Regions from separate parts of the Homo sapiens genome. Here regions 1, 3 and 4 are each linked to region 2. Evidence: fine-mapped expression QTL. A gene starts in region 2. Each other region holds a variant in brackets. All regions are shown on one strand. Distances are from middle to middle. Region 1 overlaps ITIH3 (inter-alpha-trypsin inhibitor heavy chain 3). Region 2 holds the start of NT5DC2 (5'-nucleotidase domain containing 2). Region 3 holds the start of STAB1 (stabilin 1). Region 4 holds the start of SNORD136 (small nucleolar RNA, C/D box 136).

Region 1 (5,145 bases), 270 kb before region 2:
GGGCTGGGGAGGCCCTGCCTAGTGGCAGGGAGTTTGTGAGGTTCCAGTTTTGTGGTGAGAGAGGCACAGAGGACTGTGATCCCCAGCAATTCCCAGCATGGGCATTGGGGCCAGACTGCCTTGGCCTAAGTACCAGCTTGGCCATCTGCTGAGTCTGTGAGCAAACAGACTGAGCAAATTAACCCCCCGTGCCTCAATTTCCCCATTGTAAAATGGGGATCATAAAAGGGCCCTCTTGGAGGGTTGCTATGGGACTAATGAAGTATAAATGACTGACATGCTAAATTGCTCATTTTTGCAGGTCATAGATACTGTCATACTGATTGTGTCTCCCTGGGCAAGGGAAGCCACCCCCAATTAACTCACAGGGATCCTCAGGCTCAGAGAGGGGCACGTTCATGATTTGGCAATAGGGCTGGGCCTGAGCCCAGGTGTCCCAAGTGTGCCCCCATGGCTGGGGGTCCTATCTTGCTTGGAAAGGCCTCCTCAGTTCTCTCTTGTCTCCCTTCCATAATGCCCAACCCGGTGGCTGGCTAAAGGCTTACCTTCTGCATCTGCAGGTGCAGCAAGGGAGGAAGAAGAGAAATGCATTAGAAGCCATAGGGCACTTGTGAGCAGGGACCAGAGCTGGCTGCTTGGCCGACCAGCCCTAGGCTGTGGGCCTCCCAGCAGCCAGCTCTTCCCCCACTGGGTGTCCCCTGGAACTAGGAGTTCTTGGAAGCCAGAGGCCTGGCCTGGCCAGGCCCAGCTCTTTGCCTCCCATGTCTCCCAATGCCAATCCTCCACCACCACACACAGACCCTGTACCTAGTTGCAGTGGGCATTTGGGACCCCCTGTTGAGTAGGGCAATCTGGGGTCTGGTTGAGGGGGTCCCAGCCTCCAGCTCTCAGGGACTCTTCCCCTAACAATCTCCAGGTGCCTGATAGCCTGCTCCAGGCCTTTCATGTTGGAAGTGCTTCTTCTTGTCTAACTAAGCCCTTCCATGCTGCAGCCTCAGTCCTTTTCCTTGAAATGCCCCATGGGCAGTGTGCCCCCTTTACTCACTTCCCTTTAGAGGTGCAGAGGCTCCTATTCACCCCACACCCCACTGTCCATGCTGACTGCTTCACGCTCCACCCCACTTTCCCCATCCCGTGGCCAGTTTTCCTTCAGATGCCCTACTTCAGCAGGTCTGGGTCTCCCCAGCCTGGCCCACTCCTCCACTGGACACCCAGGTAGGGTGCCCAGCACAGGAGGCCTCCGGGTTCCGGCCTCCATCCCTATCCCCACCTTCCCCAGGCTTGTCGGCAATGGCCCTCTCATCCTCGTTGTCCTCAGGCTTGGTCACCACCATTGAGGTCAGTGGAGTCACAAAGTGATACTTGAGGGACAGGTCCAGGGCCCGGGCCGTGAGGTTCTCCTTCTCCTCGCCATGGGCGTTCTTGCTGTGAGGAGGGGCCAGTCAGGAGGACAGCCTGGAGAGCAGCACCCTGCCCACTTCCCCTGCACTGGAGCAGTGGACACAGCTGGGGATCCCCACTCCACCTTCCCCATTGTGGGGTCCCCCAGGGTACAGCCCAGTTGGGCTCAGAGAAGACTGGCTCACAACTCCCTGGGGCATGTGAACAAGCCCTGTTTCCTTGCTGGACCTTGGTTTCCCCACCTATAAAACGTAAGGACCGGCCGGGCATGGTGGCTCACGCCTGTAATCCCAGCACTTTGGGAGGCCAAGGCGGGTGAATCACCTGAGGTCAGGAGTTCGAGATCAGCCTGGCCAACATGGTGAAACCCCATCTCTACTAAAAATACAAAAATTAGCCAGGCATGGTGGTGCATGCCTGTAATTCCAGCTACTTGGGAGGCTGAGGCAGGAGAATGGCGTGAACCCGGGAGGCGGAGCTTGCAGTGAGCCGAGATCCCGCCACTGCACTCCAGCCTGGGCGACAGAGCGAGACTCCGTCTCAAAAAAAAAAATAATAATAATAAAATAAAATAAATAAATAAATAAATAAATAAATAAATAAATAAATAAAATAAGGGGCTACAACAGCCACTCGCAATGGTGTCCATGTGCAGAGCACTCAGCATGTGCTAGATTGTGTACTAACGGCTTCACAGTCTAATCCCACCCACACCAACACTGACCCTCTCAGTGGGCTCAGCTCTGCCCTCTGGGCACTGAGGGCTGGGATCCCGGCCTTCAGTTCCACTCAGCCTCACCACCCCTGGGCCATGCCCAGTGTGGGCAGCAGGGTGCTGAAGTCCCCCCTACCCCGGGGCACTCCCAGGCTGCTGGCCAGGGGACTTGCCAGCTTGAGCCTTGGGGCTGACAGGATGGGGAGTGGCGGCCTGGGGTTCCTTACAGACTGCTCTACAGACACTTCCTGGGCTGGCCCAAGAAGAGGGCAGGACCGCTGGGACTGCGTATGGGGGTGCCCTTGCATTGGAGCCCAGCCAGGGGTAGGCACAGGTGGGGGCTGGGACTCTGCTCACCGCTTCTCCAGCAGCTGCTCAATGGTGAGGTAGGCCCAGAGCCGCTCAATGTAATTCCCGAAGATGTAGTCCCGCTCCTGCAGGGCCTTCTCCATCTCCTTCATGTCCACCTCCTCTGTGAAGGTCAGGTCGTTGGTGGCCTAGGGTGGGGGTAGAAGGAGGCAAGGGGCTGGAGGCTTGGGTGGATCAGGTTCAGGGGCCACCACTCCTGGACCCTCATGAGGCCAGAGCCCTACCACTGCTGATACCCCATCCCCAGCACACTTCCAGGCCCTGTCCCCACTCACCCCATGGCCCTTCACATCTGCCTTAAAGCTGTTCATGTCCTCGTCCACCAGGCGCCCGGCCACCACGATCTCAGAGCCATCGTAGAAGTGCTGGTAAGTGTTCTGGGTGAGGTCCAGGATAGCGTTCTCGGGGTACTCCATCTCCACACCCGTCAGCAGTGGGTTGGCCACCTCCTCATAGAAGCCCTGAAGTTCGCA[C/T]GGGGCCAGTCATCTCAAGCCCCAGGTCAGGCTCCCACTGATGCTGCAGCTGGGCATCCATGCCCCAGGGCTGGGCCCGTCCTAATGGCTCCTAATGTTCACTCTGCCTGTCCCTGACTGCGTCCTTCAGTCTGTGGGGGCCTCCCCCCGGCAACTCCCTGCTCCCAGATAGACACGAGGAAGACTAGAAAGGACAGTTTCAGAAGTATTTCCTATTAAAAAAAAAAAGAAATATGAAAGGACAGAGTTCTTAGCACAAAGAAAGTATTTAAGGAATGTCTGTTGGAATGAAAGCAAGAAGGAGAAAAGGAAGTAAGAGAGGCAGATGATAAAGTGATGTGGACAGGAGTGCAGAGATCTGGAGACAGAGGAGGGAGGGAATGGGGTGGTCGCCCTGCAGAGGTGGAGATGCCATTACCTGCCTAGAGAAGGAACAAAATTGCTAGATTCAGCAAATGCAAAGACAGGACGTGCAGCTACATTGAAGGTCAAATAAACAATGAATAATTTTTTAGTGTAGGTATGTCTGTTATGGGTTGAATAGCGTACTCCTAAAGTTCAACCTTATTTGGTGATAGGGTCTACAAAATAAGGTCATGAGTATGGGCCCTAATCCAATATGATTGATGTCCTTATTAAAAGGGGAGTTGGACACAGACATCCAGAGGGAAGACATGTGCAGACACAGGGAGAAGACAGCCATTGATAAGCCATGGAGAAAAGGAAAGAGGCCTAGAAAGATCTGCCCTCATAGCCCTCAGAAGGAACCAACCCACCGCCACATGGATCTGGGATGTCCGGGCTCTGGAACTGGGAGACAATACGTTTCTCTCATTGAAGCCACTTGGTACTTTGGTATGGCAGCCGCCATACACTAATACAATGTCCTGTGCAATATTTGGGGCATACTTACACTACAAAAATTCATTATTTATCAGAAATTCATATTGAACCAGATGTCCTGTGTTTGCTCTGATAATCCTGTTGAAGAAACGGGCCTGTTGTGTAGCCCAAGGACAAAATCAGAATCTTTACTGATGGGTAAGAGATAGTCAGAGGTGGATTTTGACCCAAGACGAAGCTCTTCCTAATAACTAGAACTGTCACCTTATGGAGCAGCTGTCTGAGGAAGTAGTGAGCTCCTTATGCCCGGAAGTGTGCAAGACAAGGCATACCTGCAACTGCAAATCGGCATCAGAGTCCTCATAAATGCGCCGGGCAAACCCATGGTTCTCCAGGGCCATGTTCTCCAGGAAGTTATAATTCAGATTGTTGCCAAAGCCCAGGTTATACAAGGGGAACTTGCCCCCGATGGCATTCCGCACATTCTCTTGGATTTTTTCGGGTCTGCTCTCACCTGTTGGAGAAGGGGGTGTTCACAGTCCAGCCCCAGCCCTGGGGATGGTCTAGACCAGCTCTGTCTGGGGAGACCGGACTCCTGCACATGCAGAGTTGCTGGAGTCACGACCATGAGCCCTTGTGGGGCAGGTGGTGGAGAGCCCTGGCAGAGGGAGGCAGGACCCTGCCCTTGAGGGGCTCCCAGACCACAGGGAACCCAGGGAAGAGCTGCCCCAGGTTTTCCAATGAGCCAGCTACAGAGCCAGGAGCAGCAGCCAAGCACTCCAGCCCTAGCTCAAAACCATGCCCGTGCTCCTCACCAACATTGGCATCCCCATCAGTCAGCATGATGACAATGGAGGTGCTCCTCTCTGGGATTCTGTGCTCCTCTCGGGCCTTGTTCAGCATACTGATGCCCCTCAGCAGCCCGTCATTGATGTTGGTCACTGGGACACAGACAGACAGCACCGTGGGAGGGTGTCCTCAGGGTGCCAGTGTGCAGACAGGCTGGAGCGGAGGAGGCCGGGACAGCCGGCCCCACTCATGTGCCCAAGGACCCTATCTGCCAGCCCATGGTGGTACTCAGCAAACAATGAATGAACCACCACATGAACAAACAAACAAACAACTTCCACTTTCAAATGGGGATGAAAGGCACATGGTGAAGACGAAAAGCACATGGTGATTGTGAAAGCCCTTTGGCAGAGTTGGATGGACTCCCAGTACCTCTTGCTGGGAGGAGAGGGGAGCAGTGTAGACATCGTGCCATTTTCCATATGAAACAGGGCCAAGAAGAAGGGTTCTCTGTGGCCTTATCTTGCTGGGACTTGTGAGATACCAGGATCATGG
Region 2 (5,145 bases):
TGGGACGGCCCAAAAGGGAAGGACAGCCCACGTGGCGCCGGCCCGGCCCCGCCCCCTGCCTCCCCAGTGCAGGTCTGAGCTCGCAGTTGGCAGCCGCGCCCCCTACTCTGCCACCGCCATTTTTATTCCTAATACCCAGATAGAAGTGATGACCCTCTCTGATGGACTATGTACAGCACCACATTCCAAAATGCAATTATGCAATGCCTTGCGTTTATTTCGGAGACGTGATTGGTGCCTAGACTTCTAAAGTAACAGAATTTGATATGGAGTGTTGAAAGCTGAACTTTATCAATTATCACAGCAAAAATCTAAGTAAGCGCCCCGTGAGAACCCTAAAATTAATAAAAGCTATCTTGTATGGGGCACTTACAGTTCCACAGGCACTTGTAGGCGCTTTATTCACAATAATCGCAGAAGAGCAGTATAAAGAGCATGCACTCTGTTACCAAACCACATCCCTGCTCTACAGGTGCTCCCTTAGCCCATCTGTGCCTCAATTCCCTAAGCCGTAAAACGGAGGCCTTGTTCTGACGCTGTGATAATTTAGTGCGGTAATAGGAATGATGCACTGAACACAACCCTGGAGCATAGTAACTGATTAATATTAGTTAGAATATTCATTATGATGATAATGATTGGCAGAGCCCTCGCTCTTCACATGTATTCCCAAACATGGTTTTTGTTTGTTTCTTGAGACAGGACCTCGCTCTGTCATCCAGGCTGAAGTGCAGTGGCGCAATCTCGGCTCACTGCAACCCCCTCCTCCCCGGCTCAAGCCATCCTCCCACCACTACAGGCGTGCACCACCACGCCCGGCTAATTTTTTAATTTTTTGTAGAGATGGGGGTCCCACTATATTGGCCAGGCTAGTCTCAAACTCCTGGGCTCAAGAGATCCTCCTGCCTTGGCCTCCCAAAGTGCTGTGATTACAGGCGTGAGCCACCGCGCCGAGTCTGAACGTGTATTGTTTATATGTAGTCTCTTAACTGACAGTTTAAGAGACTATGCCAGGTAGAAGCAGGGCTCTGACTTAAGAGACTTCACTTGTAATTGCGTCTTCTCATGCTGCTGTGCTTGCTGAAGATAACTGAAAGGGGCTGTCACCCCATTACCTAGGACTAAAGTAAAAACTGCAGGAACAGCTTTGAGAAAGGAGACAACTATTAGACAATCTAAGGAAGGTAAATGAAAGCTTAGAACCAATGAGACGATTTGGTGATATGGACACAAAATATACAAAAGCAGACTGGAGAGAGCAAGCAGGGCCCCAGAAAGGGTCATAGGGCCCGCAGTGAGCAGCCTGAGCTGCCGCCTGTACAACCGGCTTTGGAGGGCCAGCCCGGAAGCCTCTTTCTCCTCCGGGTAGACTCCGCCCAAGCATGCACACACACAGGCTTGATGCTCGCTCCCGTTTCTACAGGAGGTTTTGACGGCTGGATGCTGCAGGGCATCCCCTCGCCTGGAGGAGGTTCACTTGTGGCCAGGTTCCCAGCACACCCACTTGCTCACTGGGGCCCTGGGGACACCGCCACACTCGAGCCCATCCTACGGCCTCAATCCTTACCAGTCCCCAGGCCATGGACTGCCACACTGTAGGTCTTCAATCAAGGTTCAGTGGAGTTTCGAATGTACACACACCCTGAAAGACAGCGCGGCCACCTCAGAAAACAACGCGCGCCCAGCTGGCTCCCCTCCGACAGGGCCCACGGCTACTGGGTCGGCCTCCTCCGGACCCTGAGCACAGCCTGGTATGCGTGCGGGCTCGGAATACGGATCTGAGCAGAAGAAATGCGAGTGGAGAGCGGTTCTGCGCAGGAAAGAGGAATTTTGTTGGAAAGCCTGTCGACGTTGCTAGAAAAGACCACAGCATCTCACGAGGGGCGTGCGCCGGGAAACCGGGAGTTGACGGGTCAGTGCGGCCAGTTGCCGAGGTCCGAACCAAGCGGGCGCAGTGACCGTGGCCCACAACCCTGCAGCGCACGGCCCAGTCACCTGGTTAGCGGACGTCGGCTGCCCTGCAGGCCCCTCGGCCTCCCCCAGCGTGGGCCTGGCACCGGGAAGCGCGGGAAGGGCTCTTTATTTGTTAGACCAGTGAGTGGACTGGCCCGGGCTCTGGTCAGTGGGCAGTCAGTCCGAGCCCAGAGACCGGGGACCAGGACCCCGGGAAAGGAGAGCACCAGGACTAGGGGGAGGAGCGGAGGATCTGGGGTCAGAAGCATCCAGAGGCGCAGGGTAGGGCGGGCGGACCCGGGAGCGGAGAGGGCGGCAGAGGACCCGGGGGCCCGGGGGGTACCCGTCGCGCTCCGGCTGTCTCCTCTCGGCGCCTCGGCCGTCCGGAGCCTCTCAGGGACGGCCGCTCTTAGGCCCGCTGACTTCCAGGGCTGGGGCCAGGGAAAGGCGCCGCCATCGCCGGCGTGACGGCCGAAGGGGGGCGCAGAGTCCTCCCGGACCGCGCCGGAGACTGGCTGGGGGAGGGGGCTGGGGAGCCCTCCCCGCCCCGCCCCGCCCCGCCGGGTCCGGGGCCTCCCGCCCCCCGGGCCGAGGGGCGCGCCCATTGGCAGGCCGGGCTCCGCGCGCCGCACCCATTGGCCGGCCGCCGTGAGGAGCACGAGGCCACCGTGGCGGGCGCGCAGTCGGAGGGCGGCGGGCGGCGGGCGGCGGGCTGGCCGAGGGCAGCGCGGGCGGCGGGCGGCGCGCGGTGGGCATGGCGGGTGCGGGGCTGCGGGCGGCCGCTCGGCGCTGGCTGCTGTGCGGAGGCCACGGCGGGCCGCGAGCCGCCTCGTCCTCGCCCTCCTGCCCTGGGTGCGGCCCCCCGGGTCCCGGCGCCCACTGCCCCGGCGTCCCGCGCTCCGCGCCCGCCCAGGCACCCACCAGCGGCGCCGACCTCAGCGCGCACCTATGGGCTCGCTACCAGGACATGCGGAGACTGGTGCACGGTGGGTGAGCCGGGGCGGGACGTGCGCCGGGGTGTCTTCCGCGTGGACTGATGGACGGACCGAGCCCCAGGGTGCCGCTCCTCCGGGGAAACACCCAGTGGGGCTCGCCAGGGCCCCGGAGCGCAAGGGCCGGGCGGCTTTTCGCGAGAAGCTCCGGCCGTTCATCCCGGGGGCCTCTGGGGCGCCCCGACGCCCGGGGGCGGGCGGGAGGTTTGTTCCCCGGCTCGGTCTGCAGGAGCTCGGGGCTCCTCGAGCGGCTGCCGGAGTGCTGGGCCCCCGCCGACTTCCTTCGGGGTCCCGCCTGCCGTGAAGCCGCGGTGGAAACGCCCCCAACCCCTTGTTCTCGGCCAACCCTTAGTTGGGGCGGGAGAGTGCTGTGGACAAAGCCAGCGAGCGGCGCCGGGCGGAACGGGCTCCTAGGGACGGCCGGACCAAAGGGGACACCGGTTGGACTTCCCAGACACACCTCGATGTCGCCCTGGAGGTCCGGCCCCCTCTCAGCCCGGGCAGCGAAGGCTGGGAGAAGCCAAGTCACCCCCGCCCCCTGGAGCCCAGACTAGGGCTGCAAAGGGCACTTAACCTCCCTGTCCCTGCTCTCTCCCTCTGAGAAATGGCGTGAGGAGGCTGAGGCCCCTTCTTGGAGGGGGCCGGCTGGGGCGCACTAGTGAGGCCCCAGAGCTGAGAGTGCTGGACATCTGCCTGCTTGTCTCCGTGGGTCTAGTGGGGCCCTGCTTCTGCAGCAGACAGATATGGTTTGGGTCGTGACCCTATCACTGACCAGTTGGGTGGTCCCCCAGCAAGTCTCACCCTCTCTCAAGCATGAAACGCAGTCCTGGGGCCTCTCTGTCCCAGGGTTGGGTGATGACTGGAACCAGGCCAAGCAGGGCAGGAGAGCTTCCGGAGGAACCCCCAGGGGTGACGTGGCTTTTGTTGTCTGATAAAACAAAGTAGCCCTGTCTGGAAGATTCTAACTGGCTAGACAGGGGTTTTCACTCCGGCTTTGTGGGGTGGCGGAGAATCACTTCTTGACCAGTAAAGGCAGGATGGTAAAGGCCCCTGAGGAATGGTCATTTTGAAGCCTTGGGCATCTGTCCACCCTCGAGGTCCCAGGTTGAGTTTGTGTCTGTGGAGGGGCGGCCCAGCGTTATTTAAGAAGTCTTTGCTCTGGGCCCGGAGAAGACCCTCAGAGTATCCTGAGAAGCCTGCCTTGGAGGTTTCAGGGAGGACTACGGGGATCTACTGGACATTGTCCTCCTGGGCCTGCCTGCATCTTTGGAGCCTCACAGCCCTCTAAGCTCCTCTTGTCATACAAGGAGCAAAGTCATTCCCACCAAGATCCCATGGTGAGCACCAGCAGGAGCCAGCTTCACACCTCTGGGCGCCGAGGTCCGCTTTGGGCTAATGCCCACGGGCTGAGAGCAGTGCAACAGGTCCCTCAGTCCCCCAGCCCCCACCCACCTGGCCTCAGTGTGGTGACATTGGGAGGCTAGGCTGAGAGGCAGAGTGATTAATGCAGGTGGGGTGACTTGAATGGTGATCTCAACCCCGGTGCCTGTTACTGGGTGGTTTGGAGCAAGTGACTTCACCTCCCTGAGCCCCAGTTTCTTCCTCCGGACGATGGGGGAATAAGTGGGACTGCCTCACAGGATGGGAGTGAGGATTGAACAAGACAAGCCTCTAAGGCATCCACAAGTGTCACGGCTGCTAGGGAGCAGTTGGCCCTGGGACCTGGCACCATGGGCAGGTGTGGGAGCTAGGGCTGAGGAGAAAGGAGGGCAATTGCTGGACATGCTGAGTGGGACACACCCTCAGCTGCCCCACCCCCACCCCCCACCCACACCACCTATGGAAGGGAACAGGCTTCTGTCGCCCCAGAGCCAAGGTTCTTCTAGTCTAGAAATCAGGCCAGGCCACCAGGCCCTGTGGCTGTTTCCACATCCTGCTTTGTTCCTGGGAGGACTGTCTGCCCCTGGGCCCCTGGGAACATCCTTAGGGGCAGAGGTGAAGGCCTGGACCTAACCAGGACTCTGTGCCAGCAAGGGGCTGCACTGCCGAGCAGACCCTCCCAGGTCTTCTGCACCAAGAGTCACAGTCACAGTTGGTATCCGGGAACTCAGGGCCATGGGAAGGGCAAGGCCCAGGGTCCTAGTGACACACCAGAACCCTGGGCCTTGAGGGGTGGCTCAGAAGCAGCTCCCTAGAGCGT
Region 3 (5,145 bases), 39 kb after region 2:
TGAAACTAAAAATTCAAAAATTAGCTGGGTGTGGTGGCGGGCGCCTGTAATCCCAGTTCTCGGGAGGCTGAGGCAGGAGAATCGCTTGAACCTGGGAGGTGGAGATTTCACTGAGCCGAGATCACGCCACTGCCCTCCAGCCTGGGCTACAGAGCGAGACTCCACCTCAAAAGAAAAAAAGTCTGAACATGTTCAGTAGAGATGCCATTTTATTTCCTGAATATTTTCAATCCAGGGTTGGTTGAACCCAAGTACAGGGTGCACAGATACAGAGGGCCAACTGCACTTACAGTGGCTCTCGGCTATGCAGGGTGCTGGGATAGAGGCCACGTAGCTGTGTTAGAGTGGCCAGCACTGCTGCAGCCCCATCCACAAGGAGTGGTCAGAGCCATAGGTCTCTGACAAGGAAAAAACTCGAATCTGAGGCCCCTCACTGACCTCTGTCCTCACTGCCCAGAGCATGAGGAGGTGGCGGAGGCCTTTGAAATTCCCTTGCATGGTACACAGGGGGAAACTGAGTTAAGGGGAGGGCAGGAGCTTACCTGCAGGGCTCTCAGCACAGCCCTGGAACCCTTGGCTCTTCCCCCATCACTGTCGCCTTCTCAGCCTCATATCTTCCTGTCCCCAGCCCTGGCCTGGTCCTGAAGCTGGTGAGGCCCTTCTCCCTGCTGCCTCTCTGAGGGACCACAGGCATCCAAGAGAAAGCGCCTGATGGTGGCAGGGGGCCTAGGCCCCTGGCTGGACTGCCTGTGGGATCCTGGGCAAGTCCTCCCCGCTCTGGACTTTAGTCTGGCCATCTGTGCCATGGGGATAGTGGTTGCTGCTCCAGGAGGCAGACACGCTCAGCCTCACAGGAGAGAGACTACCCCCATCACCAGGGTGGGAGGCTCTTCCAGAAGCTCCCAGAGGCCCCTACCATGGGGCCTGAGCAGACCTGCAGCCAGGAGCCTGTCACAGGGACCTGACCGAGGGGCTGGCTGTGGCTGCATACCAGGACCCTGTCTGCTCGCCAGCACACACGGATGGCCATCACAGGCAGGGGTTTGGAGCATGGCTTTAGAGTGGGAATGGCCTGTCCCCATCATCCTAGGGCTTCGGGTTCCTCACGAGGAGGACAGGAGGAGTTGCCCCGAGGCTGTGAGGATTCAAGGGGACCTGCCCGGGGCTGTGGCTGCTCTGTGGCAGCTCTGAGGCTGAAGTGTGTCCTTGCCAGCTGCTCATAACCCCGGACACTAAGGGTGAGTGACTCATTCTGCTTCCCGGTACTCTTGGGGCTGGACACAGGCACACACATGTGCACACACTTGCCCCACGTGAATCTGTAGTCCTCGGGGGTTGGAGGTGATCACATCTTCAACCCCCAGGTGAGGGCCACATAAGACCTGGGCCTCCGTCTGGGCCAGAAGGGCAGGACAGGCCTGCCTCTGTACACTTCAGCTGCACGCTGGGGAGCCCCGGCCCCGCATAGTCAGAGGAGGGTGGGCTGACACACCCCTGAACCCTGGGTGGCTGGACGCAGACCTCAGACTGGGGAGGTGGGCACAATAGCCAGCCCCCAGGCCTGCTAAGAGGCCAGACAGGCGCCAGCTGCGGTTTCTCCCCAGGCCCCTGCCCCTCCATGTCAGTCCCTCCCTGTTCCCACCGCTGGCCGGCAGGGCCCAGACGCCGTGTGCCCCTGCGACTGGCTCACACTTACCTGCCCCCTGACGAAGCTGAAGCCTGCCAGGCAGAAGGCCAGGAGGCAGAGTGGGAGGAGGCCCCGGGGCCCCGCCATGGCTGGTGGGCACGCTGTCCAGGACAGAGTCGGGGCGTAGGGAATGAGCTCTAGGAGGCAGGCACAGCACAGGCAGGCGGGACGGGGCGGGCAGTGGCCTTAAAAGCAGCCCGGAGGCCCCGCCAGCTCACCCCCACAGGAACCCGCCAGGATTTCCTCCTGC[A/G]TATCAGCAGCCTGCAGGCGGAAGGGAAGGTGCTGGCCACTGACCCCCCATGGGCGGCCTGAGCCCTGCTCGGGGCTTCCCGGCTGGGACCCTCCTGGCATCACAACCTGGAAGTCCAGGCCACCATGAGCCCCGGGACCTGGGCTCTATCAGAGGTTCTGAAGCAAATCCAAAGGCACACGTGAACGAGTCCCCCGCCTGCGAGCCCAGTGTGTTTCATTCAGAGGCTCCTGGGGTGCTGGTCGGCGGAAGGCAGGGCAGCCCCTGAATGGGTCTGTCTGTTCCTGCCTCCACCTTTCCAACTCCAGGGCGCTCATGGGGCTCTGACTCGCTACAGGCACCCTGCTAGCCCACCAGACCCACATCCCCTCACTAGCCCCAGCCACTCCTGAGCCGCTGGTCCTGCCCGCCAACCCCCATCCACCCTCCCTGCCTCCCTATCTGCCCTCCACTCAGCAGCCCATGCTCAGCCAGCTTGCTGCAGCACCTCCAAACCCCTCTCCAGCTGGCTGGTCTCTCTGAACTCTCCCCAGACAGGTCTGCTCCAGCCGCGCAGGCCTCTCTGCTCCTTCAGTGAGCTCTCCCGGCATGTGCTGCTACCCTAGATTGTCACACTCTGGCTCCTTCTCACAGGTGGTCTCAGGTCAAGGGCCACCACTTCAGAGCGCCTCCCTGGTCTCAGCCTGCAGGTGGCCCTGCACCTGGTTCACCTGGCAGCACCAGCCACCAGCTGACATTGGCTTGTTTCATTTGTCTCCCCTGGAACATTGGCTGTGGAAGAGTAGGGGCGCTGTCTGGCTGATTCGCACAGTGGATGCTCAATACACGTGTGCAGAAGGAATAAATGAATGGAGGTGGCTACTTTTATGATCCCTCTGTTACTGGTGGGGAAACTGAGGCTCAGAGGGGCTGGGTAGCTTGTCTGAGGTAATCAGTTTTCATATCCAATCCCAGGGCTACTGTCTGAAGCCACCACTGCCTGCACAGCCAGCACCCCCAAGAGGTGCAGTGGGCCCAGGCTGAGGGCCTCTGCGTGCCAGGGCTGCACGTGGTGGGCCTTGCCTCCAGTTGTCACTACCCCCAACTGCAGACGGCGTAACAGTTGGGGAGACAGGAGTGGGCCAGAGCCCGGTGGCCATCTGTAAATGCTTTGGTAAAGGCCAGGTTGGGGAAAGTTTCTCCTCCCCAGCACACCTCCACTCCCATCAGTTTGGAGGGGCCTTCAGGCAGGCCTGAGATCTGGCTGGGATGGGGGTTGCAAGGGGAAACCCTCCCCACATTCCCCACACCCACAGTCTTCCTGGGGGTGAAGGGTCCTCCAGGCAGGACCCCCACTCTGCTGGCACCAAGGGAAACGGGGGAACAGAAGCAGGCCTGGGACCCAGGCTGGCCACGCCACCCACCTCTCCACAGCCCTGCCTGGCCTGGCTGCCCCAAGGTCCTGGGGACTGAGGCTCCTGGCTGGGCCAGGATGAGTTATGTGGGGCTCATAGGCCCTGCTCTGGCAGCAGGAATGGGGTTGGGGAAGAGTGTGGCATGGGGTTGGCTACCAAAATCCCAGGTCCTACCTCAGCAGGCTCCCTGAAGCAACCCTCAGGGAGGGGCCCATGAGCCTCATGTTTCAGGGACATGAAGACAGACACAGATGGGTATGTGCCCCTCCCTCCACTGTCCACCACCTGGGTCCACCTCCCCACAGACCTCCCCTGCTGCCATTCAAGGGCCACCTTGGTGAGATGCCCCGGCCCCCACCAGCCACCTCAGACTCTGGGATCTCTCTGTCCTCCTCGCCCCTCCCCCACTCTCAACAGGGGTTGTGAAACAGGTGGGGTTGGGCCCAGGGGTGACTGACACATAAGACCTGCAGGACAGCCTGAAGAGGGTGGCATGCCCCGCACCCAGGCAGAGGGGCAGCGGCTGGTGTGTCAGGGGTGCCCTGAGGAGTTTCTTGTTTGCCCTGCGCTCATGGTTTAGCCACAGCCCAGCATGGCACTGTCCAGAGAGGCCATGGCCCTGTCATGCCTCCCATGTTCCAAGAAGCATCTGGCTCCTGGAGGGCTGCTCCTTCCTTTCCCCCAACCCCTCACCCTCCTGTCTCCAGGGCACCCTCCCTCCCCCATGTGACCACGCCCTGGACGGAAGCCCTGCTGGGATCCCAGTGACCCTTGGTTTAGAAGATGCAGACGGTGTCAAACTCTGCTTTATTGGAATAGAGAATACAGGCAGCAGGAATCACGCTTGGTGCTGGCAGCTCCAGGTCCCCTGCCCCCACGGGCTCTCCCACTTGTCTGGATCAGGGGAGACCTCCACTTTGAAGAACAATATGGGGTGGGAGCTTCCAATGTGCATTCTGCTACCAGCCTCAGGATTAGCAGCAAGATGCCAACAGCAACAGCAACAGCAACAGCAACAGCAACAGCAACAAAGGACTGGACTCGACACTTCAGGAAAGGACGTGTAGAAGAGAAAGTCAGACCCACAGTGTCACGTGTTAACAACGGTCCCACAACAGCAGACACGACACTGGTGTGCACGGCTGTACCACCTGTGGGAGGCTGACAGCACACCGACAGCCCTGAGGGGCCCGGCATTCTCACTCCCAACATGAGAAAGAATTAACACAACACACACACATGTTCACATTCTCTGCGAGGACAGTCAAATTAAGGTACCAAAGGGAGGATAAAACATTTTTAGAGAACACAAAAGCCTGCTGCCCTGCCCCAGTAGGCGTCAGGCTGGACACGACAGGCTGGCTGTGGCCTGGGCTAGCCGGTGAGCTCGACAGGCAGCTCACGGCCACACAGGGCCTCCCACTGGCGAGCCAACAGCGAGATGAGCTTCTCTCTGCTCTCAGCACTGGGGACAAACACCTGCCACTGGACTTCACGGCCCTGGCTGGCTCTAGCCGGGCCACCTGGCACCTCCCCAAAGTGGTCCAGGGTGACACTGCCCATGAGGTCATGACCTTGCACGTCATCGAAGACGAGGGTGAGGGCCTGCGGGTAGGTCTGGTAGCCCATGAGCACTCGGTCCAGGTCCCGGACGCGGCGGCCATCGTCCAGCCGGTACCTGTCTCTCTGCGGCGGCTCTTTGGCAAACTCGGGCAGTGGGTAGTGGACACAGTCCTCATCCAGGAGGAAGATCTCGGAGCTGGTGAGCAGGAGTGTCTTGGGGCGCAGGGGGCCCCTGCAGCACCCAGGGGGTG
Region 4 (5,145 bases), 160 kb before region 2:
ATACACCAACATTACACATCTGTTCTTGTTTTAAGCTATTGATAATGCTGCTTTTCCCCACATTTGGGAAACCTACAAATAAATGGGAAATCCAGATATAAAAAGCATTATATGTTGGCACTTATGAAATTTTCACTGCCTAATTTTCCATTTCCCTGATGTTTAGGGCAAGATCAGAGTTGGATCTCAGTGTCTTCACTTCAATACTAAGACCAATTTTAGTTTCTTCATTTCTTGCACAAGTAATGCAAAGGCAGGAAAATACTATAAATTCAAACAAACCAAGAACTTTTAGAAACCAGCTTCCTACAGTAATCAGTCCCAACAAAAAACCTGAATCTGGCAGCAGTTGTGTAAGTTTTTTTCTTTAAATTGTGTGTGGTTATGTGCTTTCAGTAAGGTATAAGCAAGAAGCTAGTATTTGAGTGAGCCTTTTACTTGACAACAACTCCATACACTGCTGCTTGGGCACTTGGAGAGCTGGCTAAACTTCTTAACTATTTCAACACTTAAAAAGTAAAAAGTAATGAACTGAAACTCACCAATTACTCCAACCCGAATGGCTTTGCTGCAAGTTTCCTGAAAACCTCCAAGAAGTTTCCAAAGGCCCTCTTTCCCAAAGCAGACTTCACTTCTGAATGGAGCAGCATTCTTCTTTGCCTTCACACGCTAAAATTCCAAATAGTTGAATTATTCTGGCAACTTACCTGATAAATTTCAACAAACCCCAAGCAATCAGGCTCCAGAGCCCAGCTCTTAAGATAACTACATTGCCTTTCAGATGATCTCTGGCTGAAATCAGAGTTGGATCTTGTAATTTTTCATTCACTTAAATCAAGATTTTGTACACTCATCATATTTCAACCAAAATCTGAAAGAATCACATTTCTTACCACTAATAAAGGATACCTTGGTTATCTTCCCTTTATCCTTTGGTTTTGTTGAGGCTCTGAACACCACTGTTGGCAATTCTTTCTTCAAATAATTTAGCCAGCTCTCCAAATTCTCCTTTGGTACCAGATCTGATAGCAATTAGAAATAAGACATTTGCGGCCAGGCACGGTGGCTCACGCCTGTAATCCCAGCACTTTGGGAGGCCGAGACAGGCGGATCACGAGTTCAGGAGATCAAGACCATCCTGGCTAACACGATAAAACCCCGTCTCTACTAAAAATACAAAAAAATTAGCTGGGCGTGGTGGTGGGCACCTGTAGTCCCAGCTACTCGGGAGGCTGAGGCAGGAGAACGGCGTGAACCCGGGAGGTGGAGCTTGCAGTGAGCTGAGATGGCGCCACTGCACTCCAGCCTGGGTGACACAGCAAGCCTCCATCTCAAAAAGAAAAAAAGAAAAAGACATTTGCTCCAATGTGGCTATTTTGTTGAGATGCATTTGCAAAATCTGGCAACTATAGATTTTACTCTGGTTTACATTTTCCCAGTCCTTTCAAAAGGATTTAACTAGAAAATCAGGGCAGGGTAAGCTCCCCTACCATACTGCCCGTATCTTAACAGAGCTCAGCATCTGCACTTCTCTATTTCAATTCCCCTTGTATTGCTCACTTGAAAACTTCAGGACAGACTCAACGTCTGGATTACAACCCTACTAACCCTAGAGCTATGTTTCCAGAATTTACCTTTAGCTAGCAGCCAATTGTTTCTTCATTTTTGAGACGAAGTGTTGTTGCCCAGGCTGGAGTGCAGTGGCACAGTATCGGCTCACTGCAACCTCCGCCTCCCGGGTTCAAGCAATTCTCCTGCCTCAGCCTTCCGAGTAGCTGGGACTACAAGTGCCCATCATCATGCCCGGCTAATATTTGTATTTTAGTAGAGATGGGGTTTCGCCGTGTTGGCCAGGCTTTTCTCGAACTCCTGGCCTCAAGTGATGTGCCCACTTCAGCCTCCCAAGCAGCCAATTGTTTCTTAACCCCAACAACAATTTTAGATCTCATTCCCATTTTCTGCTTTGTAATTCTCTGTTCTGGGTTTTCTTTTTCCTGCTGCTCAAACTCAGATGCATAATTATGCATTTCATTTAAATATTTTGTCACATACGTTCCAATTTATTTCACTCTTGAACTAATACCCGACATTGTGTAGGTGTGGGGAATTTGTCACACTGTCATCACTTCCTAGATGAAATATACTACACAATAAGCTGGGTATAGCAGCTTACACTCTTTATTTAAAAGATGGTAAATACTGAATGGCAAAAGAATAGTAGAAACCAGTTGAGTCAGTTGTAAAAGTCACCTGGCTCCCCACTGCCTAGCACTGTCTCTGGCAAAGTGCACGTACTCTGGCTTTGCTGAGATCAGAGTTGGATCTAATCAGTCTTCAGTGACTATCAGACTGTTTCCTCGTACCTCACCCATGTACACAGAAGACAAAGGGTACCCTCTTTACTCACCTGATTTATTTAATATAAGTACCAGCTTTTTCTGTCCACTCTGGACAATGGCCTCTTCTACCTGAGGACATCTGCAACCAAGAGGATCTCTGGCATCCAACACCTCTAGGACAACATCGGAGGCTTCAATCACCTATCAAGGAAAAAATGACCAGAACTACATTATCAAGGAGAAAATGATCAGAACTACATCCCTTGTTCTGGTAATACCTTCCACAAGAGAGTACTGGCATTATCCATTTAGCAACAGGGTGAGCTCAGAGTTGGATCTCATGTCTTCACTTTGGTATGAAGAATGTTGACCCTCATCATTTCTCACACAGGAAAGTAAAACATAGGCTTGCTCAGCAGTCTCTGATCAAGATGGATTTCAAAAATGCAAATATCCCTGTCTGAATCCTCCCATAGTGAATTATATAGTTTGATAGGTCCTTCTGGCCTTGCCAAAAGCTGCTGAGGGGCAGTCAGGTTCTATCCATGGGGGAGTGAGCTTGGGAAAATGGATGTTGGGGATGGGAGTGCTGGAGAGCAACTACACCAAGTTGTCCTCCTTCACTTAGGTTTCAACAGAGTACTTTAGAGACCTTTAGCCTGACACTGCTTACTCCAATGTACCTTTCTCAATCTCAACACTATGTCAACGTTTTTTTTTAATGTTGT[A/G]AATCATGCTTACAGGCAGAACCAGTTTTGTGCAAATATTTAGAACCAAAGAAACTATTTCCGTCAGGTAAACATAGCAGGAAAGGCATTAAACAGCATAAGCTAGAGTCGAGTCACGAAATGATTTGTTGGTGAAAAGGTGGGAGGAGGGAGAGGATCAGGAAAGATAACTAATGTCGTACTAGGCTTAATACCTGGGTGATGAAATAATCTGTACAGCAAACCCCTATGACGCAAGTTTACCCATATAACAAACCTGCACATGCACCCTTCATCTTAAAAGGTTAAAAAAAAAATGACTTGAGTCTTTTAAACCTCATTACTACTGTCAGACACTGACCTAGGCTAAGATACCTTTTTAAGTTCTTGGCAGTACAGCTTCTTTGAATTCTGTTTGCCCGACTTGGCTTTGTTCTCAGTTTTGCAAAGCCCAAACTCCTAGAGGATAAAGGGGGAAATAACACAAAATTAGAAGTAGAGCAACTGTAACCTCTAACTCCATTTTCCACAGCTGAGTAGCAGCCCTTGCAGTTGTTAAATAGGTAAGATGGAGTCTGAACTCAGTTGTCTTCCTCCCAAGAAGCTCAGCAGCCTGTGGATGTGCTTTTATTTCTGCATCAGAACTCATCTCTCAGCCAGGCACAACAGCCCACACCTGTAATACCAGAAACTTCGGGAGGCTGAGTTGGGTGGATCACTTGAGACCAGCCTTGGCAATATAGTGAAAGCCCGTGTCTGCTAAAAAAAATTAGCCAGGCGTGATGGTGTGCTTCTGTAGTCCCAGCTACTTGGAGACTGAGGTGGTAAGACTGCTTGAGCCTGGGTGGTCCAGGTTGCAGTGAGTTGTGATTGTGCCACTGCACTCAGGCCCAAGCAAAAAAACCAAAATCAAAACCCCTGATCTCTCATTCATAAAGAGACCTAATCATACCTTTTCCATAGGTTCCACATTTGATGGCTTAATATCAGGATTAGTTTCAAGTTTTCTTTTCTTTTCTAGTTCCTTCTGCCTGTCAAGTTTCTGCTGCTGTTTTAGTTCTTCAAGCTGTCAGAGCCATAAGGGAAATAGGTGAACCAGTGACTAGTGTTGTTACCTTACTCTGAAAAATATCACACATAACACACTACACCACTCAATGAAAATTCTGGCTAACATAACTTACCCTCTGTTTCCTTAGCTCAGCTTCCCTAAGAAGAGCCTCCTTAAAGGGAGCACTGTTTGGAACTCCTGGGTCTTTCCTAGGCTTCTTGTGACCCCGCTTTTTAGCCTCCTTTCTTAATTTTCGATGATGTTCTCGAACCTATTAAAATAAAGAGATTTTGTCTGCTTACAAAAATATCTTTATACTTAAGCAGAATTCAAGTGAGAAACCAATCTGGCTGCAATTTAGTTATGCCTATAAAATGTCCTAGGAAAATGGAGCTTTAATTGGAATCTTACAAAGTAATGCATATGTAAGTATAAAACAGCAAGAAATTGTAACTAGAAGGCTCTCTATGCAGAGATTAACATGCTGAACAAATTTAGAGACTTATCACCAAATCACTGCACTTTCTCACAGCTGCACTCCTGATGCCTAAGAGCTTGTGCCCATGGTCAGTCTATCCAATGCCATTTCCCAAAACCAAATCACATTAACCCAGACTTTCCCGCAAAGGAACAGGGCAAAATCAGTTTAGCAATGTGTTTGGTACAGCTCTCTCAAGCACTACACTTACCTTTTTTTGGATTTTATACCGCTTATGGCAGGTCATGCGTTTACTTGCTTTCTTTAACTCTACAAAGAAACACATCACAAATCTGTTAACCCAAATGATTAGTTCTGGGTTAACGCACTATGGAGTTATATCCTTTTCTTGTGTTATTGGCTACCAAACCTAACGTTAAGTCTAATGCGAAATGCCTAATGCAAACATACGTGCTACTTTCAAATCCCAGAGAATTAAATTCAGTAGATCCAGAATGGAGTCAAAATTCCCTGCACTTACCCTCACAATATTAGAATGGGATCATACACAACAGCGTATGAGACACAAAACGACAACCACTTCGTGTCAAACAGCACGAATCATAAGGC

Evidence for each region.
Region 1: its variant is fine-mapped to the expression of NT5DC2 in whole blood (INTERVAL, PIP 0.98).
Region 3: its variant is fine-mapped to the expression of NT5DC2 in whole blood (TOPMed, PIP above 0.99). The same link has a PIP of 0.9 or more in blood mononuclear cells and monocytes.
Region 4: its variant is fine-mapped to the expression of NT5DC2 in skeletal muscle (GTEx, PIP above 0.99).

Annotation. Positions count from the first base shown.
Region 1 is chr3:52,800,135-52,805,279 of GRCh38, reverse strand. ITIH3 (inter-alpha-trypsin inhibitor heavy chain 3) reads right to left here. Exons shown (of 22, transcript NM_002217.4): 10 at 4,617-4,742; 11 at 4,134-4,315; 12 at 2,761-2,946; 13 at 2,474-2,613; 14 at 1,271-1,425; 15 at 546-554. Among named protein-coding and RNA genes, the nearest start is that of ITIH3, 7.9 kb to the right of the region's middle. The variant C/T (reference allele first, on the strand shown) is at 2,959.
Region 2 is chr3:52,531,300-52,536,444 of GRCh38, reverse strand. It overlaps NT5DC2 (5'-nucleotidase domain containing 2), which reads left to right and starts at 2,588. Exons shown (of 14, transcript NM_001134231.2): 1 at 2,588-2,939. The coding sequence starts at 2,708. RefSeq lists silencers at 1-154, 2,189-2,688, 2,749-3,098, 3,129-3,218 and an enhancer at 3,349-3,478.
Region 3 is chr3:52,492,043-52,497,187 of GRCh38, reverse strand. NISCH (nischarin) reads right to left here. Exons shown (of 21, transcript NM_007184.4): 21 at 4,120-5,145. The coding sequence ends at 4,706. It overlaps STAB1 (stabilin 1), which reads right to left and starts at 1,850. Exons shown (of 69, transcript NM_015136.3): 1 at 1,697-1,850. The coding sequence starts at 1,774. The variant A/G (reference allele first, on the strand shown) is at 1,938.
Region 4 is chr3:52,686,469-52,691,613 of GRCh38, reverse strand. It overlaps GNL3 (G protein nucleolar 3), which reads right to left. Exons shown (of 15, transcript NM_014366.5): 2 at 4,787-4,845; 3 at 4,231-4,368; 4 at 3,999-4,112; 5 at 3,422-3,505; 6 at 2,408-2,540; 7 at 910-1,022; 8 at 543-669; 9 at 1-72. It overlaps SNORD136 (small nucleolar RNA, C/D box 136), which reads right to left and starts at 2,727; the gene lies at 2,581-2,727. It overlaps SNORD19 (small nucleolar RNA, C/D box 19), which reads right to left and starts at 2,374; the gene lies at 2,299-2,374. SNORD19B (small nucleolar RNA, C/D box 19B) reads right to left here and starts at 876; the gene lies at 784-876. It also overlaps SNORD19C. The variant A/G (reference allele first, on the strand shown) is at 3,068.